Linked DNA regions of Homo sapiens: region 2 is linked to region 1. Evidence: fine-mapped QTL for protein levels in blood plasma. Region 1 holds a variant in brackets. A gene starts in the other region. All regions are shown on their forward strands.

Region 1 (5,388 bases):
GTAGACTTATACCGTACTGTTTTCCTCTCTTCTCTCTCTTTCTTTCTTTCGGTAATGGAACCCTTATTTCTTGTGGAAAACATTCTACATGATCTAGTTGGGAGTGAAGCTGAATCTTCTTCTAAGCCACAGGGTGGGCACATGAGACAGTAAGAATATCTGATCCAGAGCTCTTAGGGAAGACACTCCCTGTAATCCGATGTCAAAATTTGGTTGTCAGCCATCACCCAGCAACATAAAAAGAGTCATTGAATAGAAAGATATAATATCCTAATGGAATTATGTGACACCTTGGATCCCAGACATACTAAAGAAATGTATCCCTGGACTTTCAGTGATATGCCCTCAAAGGCTGTCAAATATTTTTGTTTAAAAAAAGTTATGCTGTTTTAAGTAGGAAGTTAATCACTTGCAACTGAAAAGTTTCCAACGATTACTGCTATTTCTGTGTTACCTTTCAGAAGCTGAAGGGTAGACTCTATACCCTGCTTCCATAAGAATGGGATCCATTTTGATTGTTTCTTCTTTTCAATGGAAAAAAAGCAAGTATGCATTCAGGTATTATTTTTTACCCAGTCCAGTTAGAGTTATAGTTTGGAATATTAGTTGACTAGAAAAGAATAAAAAATATCAGGAAATAGATTTTAGGCTGGGGCAGTAGCTCACGCCTGTAATTCCAGCACTTTGGGAGGCCGAGGTGGGTGGATAACCTAAGGTCAGGAGTTCAAGACCAGCTTTACCAACGTGGTGAAACCTCATCTCCACTAAAAATACAAAAAATCAGCCAGGTGTGGCGGCAGACACCTGTAATCCCAGCTACTCGGGAGGCTGAGGCAGGGGAATCGCTTGAACCCAGGAGGTAGAGGTTGCAGTGAGCCGAGATAGCACCATTGCACTTTACCTAGGGAACAAGAAAAAAAAAAAAAGAAAGAGACTTTAATGGAGAAAATCCTTAACAAATTAATATCAATTTTACGTTTACTATAGTCAAAGATTGAAGATATCTTTAAAAGGTGTGCTGTAGAATGACAATTTACAAATTCATTCAGCAGGAGATCATGTAGACATGAATTACCTGCTCTGCACTGTGATCATAAAACATTATCAAAGTTAGTTTTTAGATCAAGTGGAAAAGTTTTCTGATATTTCATTCAAAAGTACACTGGAGTTTATCTCTGTGCCCAAAAATATTCTTGAAGATGAAATACAGGGAATTACAAATAAATTTTGAACTGAGAAAGTGGAATGAGAAATAAAAGAGTAATTCTCTAATTTCCACTCTATCCCCAGGCCTATGCCCCTCCCCTTCACAATAAGTAATCCTAATTCCAGCTGTATGTGTTGGACAAGGAAGGGACAGGCGGGTGGGGCTGGTGACTAAAAGCTTTTTAGAGTATCTTGTAAGATTGTCTCTTGGAATAGTTAGAAACTTCCCTCTGCCAGAGGATTTAGTATCTGCCCCCACACTATGAAACATTTTGCTCTCCACCCATTCATCTTCTAAAAATCGTTGGCCTTAACACAATCTCTATTGTTAAGATATGGAGACATAGATTGCTGTAAATACCTCCCCAAAACACAGTGAGATTATGGCAGAGAGGAAATTGAGACCTCTTTTTCCCTAAGATACTACTTCCTCTACAAGACTTGGTTTGCTCTTGCTTTCCACACTTTGTTGTTTCTCAAACTTCCTTGTGTGCTCAGATATCCAGAGGACATGGGAAAATATAATTAACTGGGAAGACTGAAGTTTGGCTATAATTATCAATTTGGGCAATCCATTGTGGCAAGAGCCATGCAGGGTATACAAGGTCTTATACAAAACAGTCTTTTAAACCTATATTAAGTTCCACCGTTTCCACAGACTTTCCTCAGTTCTCCAAGTTTTTAACAATCTCTTCATTTCCCAGAACTACTAGAGAGGTTGATTACAAATGGTCTTATGATAGTCAATGTTTTATTGTGTATAGGATTTTCCAATATAAATACAGTATTCTCAGAGGAAAGTACATGACTTCCTTCTACATAATTTATTTTTCCATGATACTTCATATCGTTCTGGTTAAGTATATTTGTGTGGAAGAACTGGTCAGTTGTCTTGTATATGTCAGTTAATGGTGATTTCTCAATTTAATACTCATAGTTTCTTTTGCATGTTTTTATTAAGCTTTGCAAAATAGCACAAACAAATGTACTATTTACAGTTTCAGACCAAAGTATACTCTCCTGAGTATTCACATACCTAATAAACCTAATTAGTAATATAAAGAAAACCAGTATTTAACTAAATAACTTTTGTAGCACAATCATTCCACTTAGATAAATAGTTATTTGCTAAATTACTCAGGTAACAACCTGGTTCTGAGTTTCTTCTAGAGAGGAAAGAGGGTTACGGGGTCAAGATAGAGAAAGGAGGTGAGAAGTTTATATAGGAATTACTTTAAAAGTAAAAGTAAATTAAATTCTCTGAAAAAAGGAAAAGAAAAGCAAAAGGAAGGATAAGATAAAAGGGAAATTACTGATGTGTGCAAAAATATGCATATATTATTTTCCGGTGTGTCCGTGTGCAAACACATGAGAGAAATACAAGGAAATCTGTTTCTTTTTATGGTTGACTCTTCTATGTGTAGTGGGATTTTCTGGTTACATCTGAGCTAAATATTATGGCACATAGCAGAACACAGTAGTTATTGCACATGATTGTCTGTGAA[G/C]TGGGTGGGCAGGAATTTTTCATTTCATAAATCATTTCAGCTTGCTGCTCTAATTCCACAGCACTGGGAGACTAAAAAAAGCTCAAGAGGGAAAAAATGTGTTTTTCCTCTTTTTATTCTTAGTCTACCCCTTCCCAGTGTGAATAGATCTTTAGTGTTAATGATTAGGTTTTTTTATAAGACATTTCAAAATATCTTTATTGCTCTGCTTTTGAAGCAAATTATTATGTTTTCCCATTCTATTTTCTTTTTTGCCGGGGAAATTTAGTACCAAGGCAATCAGACATACAGTTTCCTTCCTTTATTTCTGCTTATTTATAGCACAGTCTATATCAATGAAATAATGCTATATTATTTTCTTGCTGATTGCTTAATGTTCACAGTTCAAAATTCCAGCCAAGGTCCTGAAGTGGTTTTACCCTTATTTAAGATTTCCTGCTGAAAACATTCTATTACAGCTTTGCAAGTAAGTACCTCCCTGGCCTCAAGTCACTATAAAGGTAATTTAGTAATTAAAATAAACACCCTTTGCAAATCTGTTTCCTCCCTTCTGGGAGACTAGGGAAGTAGTTTCCATCATATTTCAGGTTTCTCCCCATTTTCCTTAAATGATCAGCCTTCAACCAAGAAGTTACTTGGTAAGTTGTCTGTAATGTAGCTCCAGGGCAAACACAAAGTGTACATTGTGGGAAAATAAAGCAAAACAACAACAACAAAACACAAATAAAAAATGTTTCTCAACAGCTAGAGTCCATGAGCATAGTTTTATAATTTGCTTCCTGCTCCGGTAGGAAATTTAAATCGGTTCTTGAAACTATGTAGTTATTATGATTAATCAAAATCTATAGCTGTGGTGCTCTGTCTGAAGCCAGGAACTCCTGTGCCCCACTCCCTACAACAGTTAAAAAAAAAATTTTTTTTTCCTAGCAGAATAGAGCAGCGTTTAAAAGCAAAATTAAGAAAAAGGAAAAGGTAGTATATGCTAATACTGTCTTCTCACCTAGCATTTTTAGAGGTCCCTCACATTTATTATTTATCTCATCTTTAGAATTGGCTAACAGAAAGTAGCATGCAGATATCAAATGAAAAGAATACACCCTTTACACTTAAACAAAACCTTTTAATTTGCCATGCTAGTACAAAAATGGAGAGAATTGCAGTTACATTCTGTTAACTTGGAAACAGGATCTTCTTTTAAGTCAAATTTTGTTGGTTTTTAGTCAATAGGTTTCTGATTTGATTTTCATAAAAATTTTGAGTATTGTTTTCTCTTAATTTCTTCCGAAATTGTGCAAACCAAATTACATAGTTAGCCACTGTCATTTAAGTTAAAAACAATTCTATGAAAACAAATTTATTACTACTATATGGTTGGGTTTTGTGTAAATCTTCCTATACTTCTTGATTTTTAAAAATAGATGTGAAAATTAAAGCAATACAAGAGGTAGTCCTAGTCCAGATAAAAGAGATACAGAAATACTGATTCAAGCAGAGAGTTATATTTCTGAAATACTTCATTTTCCCCAGTGTAGATAGTCTGTGTAATAATGGGCTTGCATTATTAAGGGTGAAAAGTATTGATTTAATAATTATAACTCAAGAGAAAACTAAAAAATCAGGTGAACATAGTGCTGTGTTCATTTGCACTGCAATCAATTCTCCAAATATTCATTTGATAAATTACACAATAAAAGTGAATGAATAGTCCCAGGTTAGGTTAGGCCCAGTCAAAATTGTCTGAACATAAACAATAGAAAGTATCTTTCAGTCTCTCTGGTGATAAGTCTGTGACATAGGATACCAGATCTTCCAGTTGCTTAGTAGAAGCGAGAGTCAGAAAGATATGGAGACCCTCTATGGATTGTCTCTTGTGCCTAGCTAACTGCCTTCTACTCCCACAACTGATTGTCTTGTGGTTTTATTACATATATCAACATATCTCCCCTTTATCTATTCTGGTTTGATATGGATCTGTTACTTCCGAGAAAAGGGTTCTAATAAAACACCTATTAATGTATATTTTAGTGGACCACGTAAACAGAAATATATATTATTAATATATATTATTCTTATGGCACATGTTAATTCTAAATTAAGGTTCTGGGTACCCCTGGTATATGGTCTCACTAATAGGAAACAAGTAACAGGAACTATGAGTTGTGAGAGGAAAATAAATATTTTTTTCACATATAATAAAACTTTTGGAGAGCATATTTTTATATTCTTCTTTTCTTTCCATAGAACTTTTTTCCTCTTTCGTAACTACAAATTTTTCCAATCCCTTTCACACCAAGGCAAGCATAAGCACTCTAGTTACTGTGATCTAAAGACTGCTTTTTTACAAAAGTGCTGAGAAAGCAGAATAGACCAGCGTTTAAAAAGCAAAATTAAGAAAGAAGGAAAAGGTAGAAAATAAGTGATGAGAGAAGGTAGGTAGTAGACATATTTCCTGTGAATGATTTTTTCTTCAGAATTGCTGCAAGGTAGATTCAGTCTTATGCTGCTCATTTGAGGTTTCCTTTGCTACCTTTCCCAGTTCTGGCCAATTTGTATGTGTATATATTTGCCTAAGTGTATCAGGGTATATCCAGTGGAGTTAGTGAGAAGGGTGAAATGATGTCCTAAAAAACTGAGCTACCACTGTACCATTGTAAAAGCCAACAAAAATGCTCTGCAG
Region 2 (5,388 bases), not on the chromosome of region 1:
TGTAGTTTCATCAAATTCTTCCCCCAGCTTGAAGGAGATCTTAGTGTCCTGGAAAGAACTTTCTGTTCTTATGGTCATCATTTTCCCATCAACACTAATAGTTACTGTCGGTTTCACTAACCCTGCCATGTTCCGGGCTGCGAAATTCACTCCTACAAGACAGAGATAGCCTTGGACCTTATTAAGACATTGTTAACAATCACTCTGGAAGTCAATTTTCAAAGAATGCTTACTTTACCTATTTTGAAATTTTGGATAATGTATAGTAACTTATTTTATGTTTTCTGTGATATCAGGGCTGAGCTAGATCCTCCCAGTCATAAGGTATATATGTGACATTTTGAAAAGCTAAATTCACTCTCTGAGACTATTACACTTCCTCTAAAATGTAAATTTGTATGGTGCCTTTCAAGAGATCAAATGCTTGCACTTCACCTTGTGGAGTGTTACGATAACCTTGTGGGTGCGGGAGGAGTTTGACTTAGAGCCTGGCCCTGTGGTTTGGTTGGGAATTTCCCATTGTCAAACTTGACTCCTGCAGTTGGTGGGCAGAAGAGCTGACTCCTTCTCTGTCCTGATATCAAACTCCATTTCACATTTAGATTGTGGAACTGATATGACACATCTTACTGTAGAGAAGCAGTGTTAGACATCTGCATCACAAAGAAGAGTGAGATGGTTAAAACCCAGGCTCTAACTTGGCCACTTGCTAGCTTGGGCATATTATTTACCTCTCCTAACCTTCAGTTTTCTCAATAGTAAAGTGTGGATAACTGTATACTTGACCTCGCAAGTTTTTTTTTTGTTTGTTTGTTTGTTTGTTTTTTGTTTTGAGACAGAGTCTCGCTATGTTGCCCAGGCTGGAGTGCAGTGGCACAATCTCAGCTCACTGCAACCTCTGCCTCCCAAGTTCAAGCGATTCTCCTGCCTCAGCCCCCCGAGTAGCTGGGATTACAGGCACATGCCACCATGCCCAGCTAATTTTTGTATTTTTAGTAGAGATGGGGTTTCACCATGTTGGCCAGGCTGATCTCGAACTCCTGACCTCAGGTGATCCACCTGCCTTGGCCTCCCAAAGTGCTGGGATTGGAGGCCTGAGCCACTGTACCCAGCCAGCGGATGTTTTAAAAGGTTAAATGAAAGGGGTTAGCATGGTACTGGCACATAGAAACTGCTCAGCTGTTATTCTTGCTTGTATTATGCCTAAACCCAGCTCCCAGTCAACACAAGTGCTACTCTGGCCATAAGGCCCAAGTTTTTTATATACCCCCCCAATTTTTATTCAAAACAAGTGAGTCTATAAATCTATGAAGAGACAGAAAAACTTGTTTCTTATGACCCTCTGAGAAAGTGAATATTGACTACATCAGAGGAACAAATATTACATTTATAAGCACATTGACTTATTATGGGGATAAGGCATTGTTATTTCATTGTCTAGAATGAGTAAACATAATTAATAATTGTAAGCATCCATTAAGCATGTTATGTAAGTTAAAAAAAAGTAAAGATAAGAAAGTCCTTGGCTTTGTATACAGTTTACTACAAGGGAGGTTTCTCTTAATTAAATATGAAAAATATGAAATAATTGCTGTTCTTCCATTAGTAAAGAACAGTTTAGCTATTATACACCCAAGTCATTATAATTAATGTGTAACTAAATGACTTGAGTTAGAGATTAAAGGATTGGTAGGGTTTATAATTCTGAGGAATATCCAGTGGTGAGACATTCAATGAGTAAAAATGTTGTGTTTCTTCAGATTTGTAATTCTTCAAAACCATGTTTATAAAATATCTCTCACATTTATGAGAACTCTAAAAATTAACCAACTAGAAATTTTGTTAGTTGATACTGCTGTTTTAAAGCTATAACTTAAACCTTGAAACAAATTTAATTGATCAATTTAATTGTAGGTAGTGATTACTGTCTATAAATTTGAAGCTGGGAAAAATGTTATTAAATGAAATGACCAAGCTAAAATGAAATTCTATCTAGAAGTTAGGTGAAGTATTTTCAAAAAGGATAAATGGGCTTAAATATATGGATCATGACTGGACAGAGGTGTCTGTGGGCCTAGTCTTCCAAAAAGAGACAATTATTACTAGTAATTTAAAAAAGCAAAAGTAGAAGCATACATTGTGTTAGTCTATATACCCTAGGATCACAAAAGGAAGATAATTGTAGGAAAATTCATGGTAAAGTACAAACCCAATCACATCACAAAATGCTTTGCCAATTTCCAAATTTGTAATGGTATTTCTCACCCAGTTCTTTCATGTAATCCTCAAAGTTTTCACTGGAGACCAGCTTCCAGGTTCCCAAGAAGGGCTCAACCATCATGGAACACTTGCTGAGAAGAGCCACTCGTAATTGAAAACCAAAGAAATATAGGCATTACGGTGCTGCCAGTAGTTTAATTTAAAGAGCGTCTTCATCACGTGACTCTTCTGAAATGGCCAATGGGCAACAGCAGCAAGACTAAAGATTCTAGGCACCAGCATTTGACTCATTTTATTTACCTCCAAATTAAGAGACAGAAAATTAGCATGTAAAATTAAATTCTGGTCAATGATTTTAGCTTCTAGCAAAAAGATTTACACCCAAGTCACCTGACAAATATTACTTGTGGAACGGAGACAATCTTCAATAGACATCAGCTTTTTGAACAATGAATACTGAGTCAACCCTGGAGGAATATCCTGACAAATTGATAAACACCTGGCTGAGATGTTTTCCTACCTAAGACAAGAAATCCTTGCTTGGTCCACCTCAGCTGTTTTTTGTTTGGGTAAGTCACAGTGCTCAAACATCCTCTTCATTAAAATAATATCTTCCCTTCCCTTCCTTACAGGGTTGATGGGTTGATATTAGTTAATGTAACTAAAATGCCTATAATTGCTTGGAGGGAAATGGAGGGTATTATTAATATATTATCATTGTTGTTAATCGAAGGTAATTGAGGACAGGAAAGAAAGGTGACAATTATCATTGGATAATAGTATATGATTTAAGCTCTGAAAAGGAAGCAGAGCGAATGCCTACAAAATTCGTCTTTCAGGCTTACAAAGTAAACTCTACATTAAAAGATATTTTAAATTATAAGAAAAAATTTTGGCAAGTTTCATATAGAAAAAGATGTTTGGAATCTGCATTCTAAAAGAAAGACAAAGGCAGCAAATGGTTTCAATCTCTGTGCCATTACTTCTGAAACCATCTTCTGCAACCCCAATAATGGAAGTGGACTTTGCAGGTACTGAGTTTAGTAAGAAGGAGTAGATTCAGTAGCTGTTGATTTACATTACGGTTTTGAACTCCAGTTAACTTTAGAAGATGTTGGAAAGTTAGTGTCAGGGACCAGAAGAAGAATATTTATATTTTTACCTGCTTTGTATGAAGTATTTATTTAATTCAGAAAATATTGTTTGTGAACAAAATAAACAGGAGGTTGATATTTTGGTACTGTAAAACAATAACTTAAGTGGAATAAAGGATGGCTTTTGATGAAAACATATAAAGAAGAAACATATAATGTGATATCTTTATGGGTGGGACAATTATTAAATTATCTACAGTGCAAAACAGGGTAAGTGAAAATCCTGGAGTTAATTTCAGGAAACTAAGACCCAAGCTCAAAATAAGTGCCTCAGCAGTTGAAAGTGCATTCAGAGGTGATGTTCAAATATAGAGCAAGTTGTTAAACGTTTGCTTAACTGGTTCGAGATGTGTATGCACTCTCTGCTTTAAAGAAAGCAAGCATACATTGCTATGCCTGTTGGCCAGCTGGGTAGTGTAGCAAAGGTCTCCCATCAGCATAATCTTCCTTGTTGTTTTGATTCTCCTGTCATAGAATGATATTCCTGTGGTCCGTTTAGAACTCAGTTGGCCCATGAGACAAAAGCTAACATCAGATTTCTGGTTTCAATTATCCTCAGCAAACTAACGCAGGAAGAGAAAAACACCTCATGTTCTCACTTATAAGTGGGAGCTGAACAGTAAGAACACATGGACACAAGGAGGAGAACAATGCACACTGGAGCCTGTTGGGGCCAGGGCTATGGGGGGAGGGAGAGCATCAGGATAAATAGCTAATGCATGTGGGGCTTAATACCTACGTGATGGGTTGATAGGTGCAGCAAACCACCATGGCACACATTTACTTATATAACAAACCTGTACGTTCTGCACATGTATCCCAGAACTTAAAATAAAATAAAATAAAAATTCTGGCTTCTGTAAAATTCCCCACCCCTAGGAGAGAACCAAAGGGAGAGACAGTCTCTCTTTTGCCTCTACACATTTTTCTATCTCACGTGATATTTACAAGTGCTGCATCCATTGTGTTACCTCCTCAAAGATGGGGCCAGAACTGAGGATAGCAGAGCAGAAACGTGGAAGGAACTGAAGGCCACTTTATTTCAAAAATTTATATTATGTTAGTTAATAAATTCCATTCTTATTTAAACAGTTTTGTCTCTGAGCTTTTGTTACTTGTAGAAGAAGTCTTCATAATTACTACGCCTTTGTAAATAGCTTCACCAAATGGTGAATTTGGACCTTCACAACAACCAGTTGCATGAATCACATAGAGCTGGCCTCATGACAGCAGAGACCCATCTTCCTGAACCAACTCAAACATCTCTTTCCCTGTGACACTGGTTCAGAGCTAGATAATCCCCATGGCGTGAAGATAGAAATAAATGTTTAAGAGAAGTATATTAGCTTATTTCATAGTACTGCAAAGAGCTATTTCCCAGCTGTCTCCTGAGCTATTCTATGAGTATATCAAAAAAAGAAAATATTTTCCACTCACTTCTGTATCCTTAAGACAGTATCTGGCATATCATAAGTGTTCAATAAATGTTTTATGGATGAGTGACCAAAGAAATAAGTAGTATTTTTTTTAACTGGTAATTCTCATTAGTGTTCTTTATCTCTCTAACAGTGACTAAAGACAGAGTTTTAGTACATTATCTTCTCCTGACCTGGTCCTATGACAGGCCTTTTATTCTGGTCATTATCAGATGGTGGAGGGATGCTCAGACTCTCTTCATCTTTCTCAGTTATATAGCACAAGTCTCCCTTCTCAACTAAGAAAGTTCTCTGCTATTTCTGTTGCTACCACCGCTAGCCTTTGGCACTTTGGTTTGATTATATAAAAAAAGTGAACACCATTTCCTCAAGTAGAAAAAAAATTTTTAATCAGATTGTTCCTAATGTTAATCCTAGTAAAGGAACTAGAATACTGTAGTTTGTTATAGAATAGTTACATGTCTTGTTCTTATGACAGTTTCAAGGCTCATTTCTCCAATATGTCATTTTTCTATGAACTTTCAGCATCTCATTTTCTATATTGATTTTCTTGTGACATTTTAAGACATCAAGTAGTT

Alleles and levels. Positions count from the first base shown, and alleles are read on the strand shown. Strength reflects both the effect of a copy and how common the allele is.
For the plasma level of the protein whose gene starts at base 2,394 in region 2, C is the high allele of the variant in region 1 and G is the other (weak association).

What was found. PIP is the chance, under the fine-mapping model, that this variant and not a neighbour inherited with it causes the effect. Protein levels are from antibody-based Olink assays in UK Biobank. Linkage for the fine-mapping came from a reference panel and not from the study's own genotypes, which makes the PIPs less certain.
Region 2: it holds the start of FABP9, and the variant in region 1 is fine-mapped to the plasma level of the FABP9 protein (UK Biobank, PIP above 0.99).

What each region holds. Positions count from the first base shown.
Region 1 is chr10:52,572,182-52,577,569 of GRCh38, forward strand. All of the region lies in intron 1 of LOC124902426 (a long non-coding RNA gene), which reads left to right. The region is part of intron 1 of LOC105378305 (a long non-coding RNA gene); the gene reads right to left. Among named protein-coding and RNA genes, the nearest start is that of LNCAROD, 100 kb to the left of the region's middle. The variant G/C (reference allele first, on the strand shown) is at 2,712.
Region 2 is chr8:81,459,186-81,464,573 of GRCh38, forward strand. It overlaps FABP9 (fatty acid binding protein 9), which reads right to left and starts at 2,394. Exons shown (of 4, transcript NM_001080526.2): 1 at 2,266-2,394; 2 at 1-152. The coding sequence starts at 2,338. It overlaps LOC101927118 (a long non-coding RNA gene), which reads left to right and starts at 2,273. Exons shown (of 9, transcript XR_001745980.2): 1 at 2,273-2,789.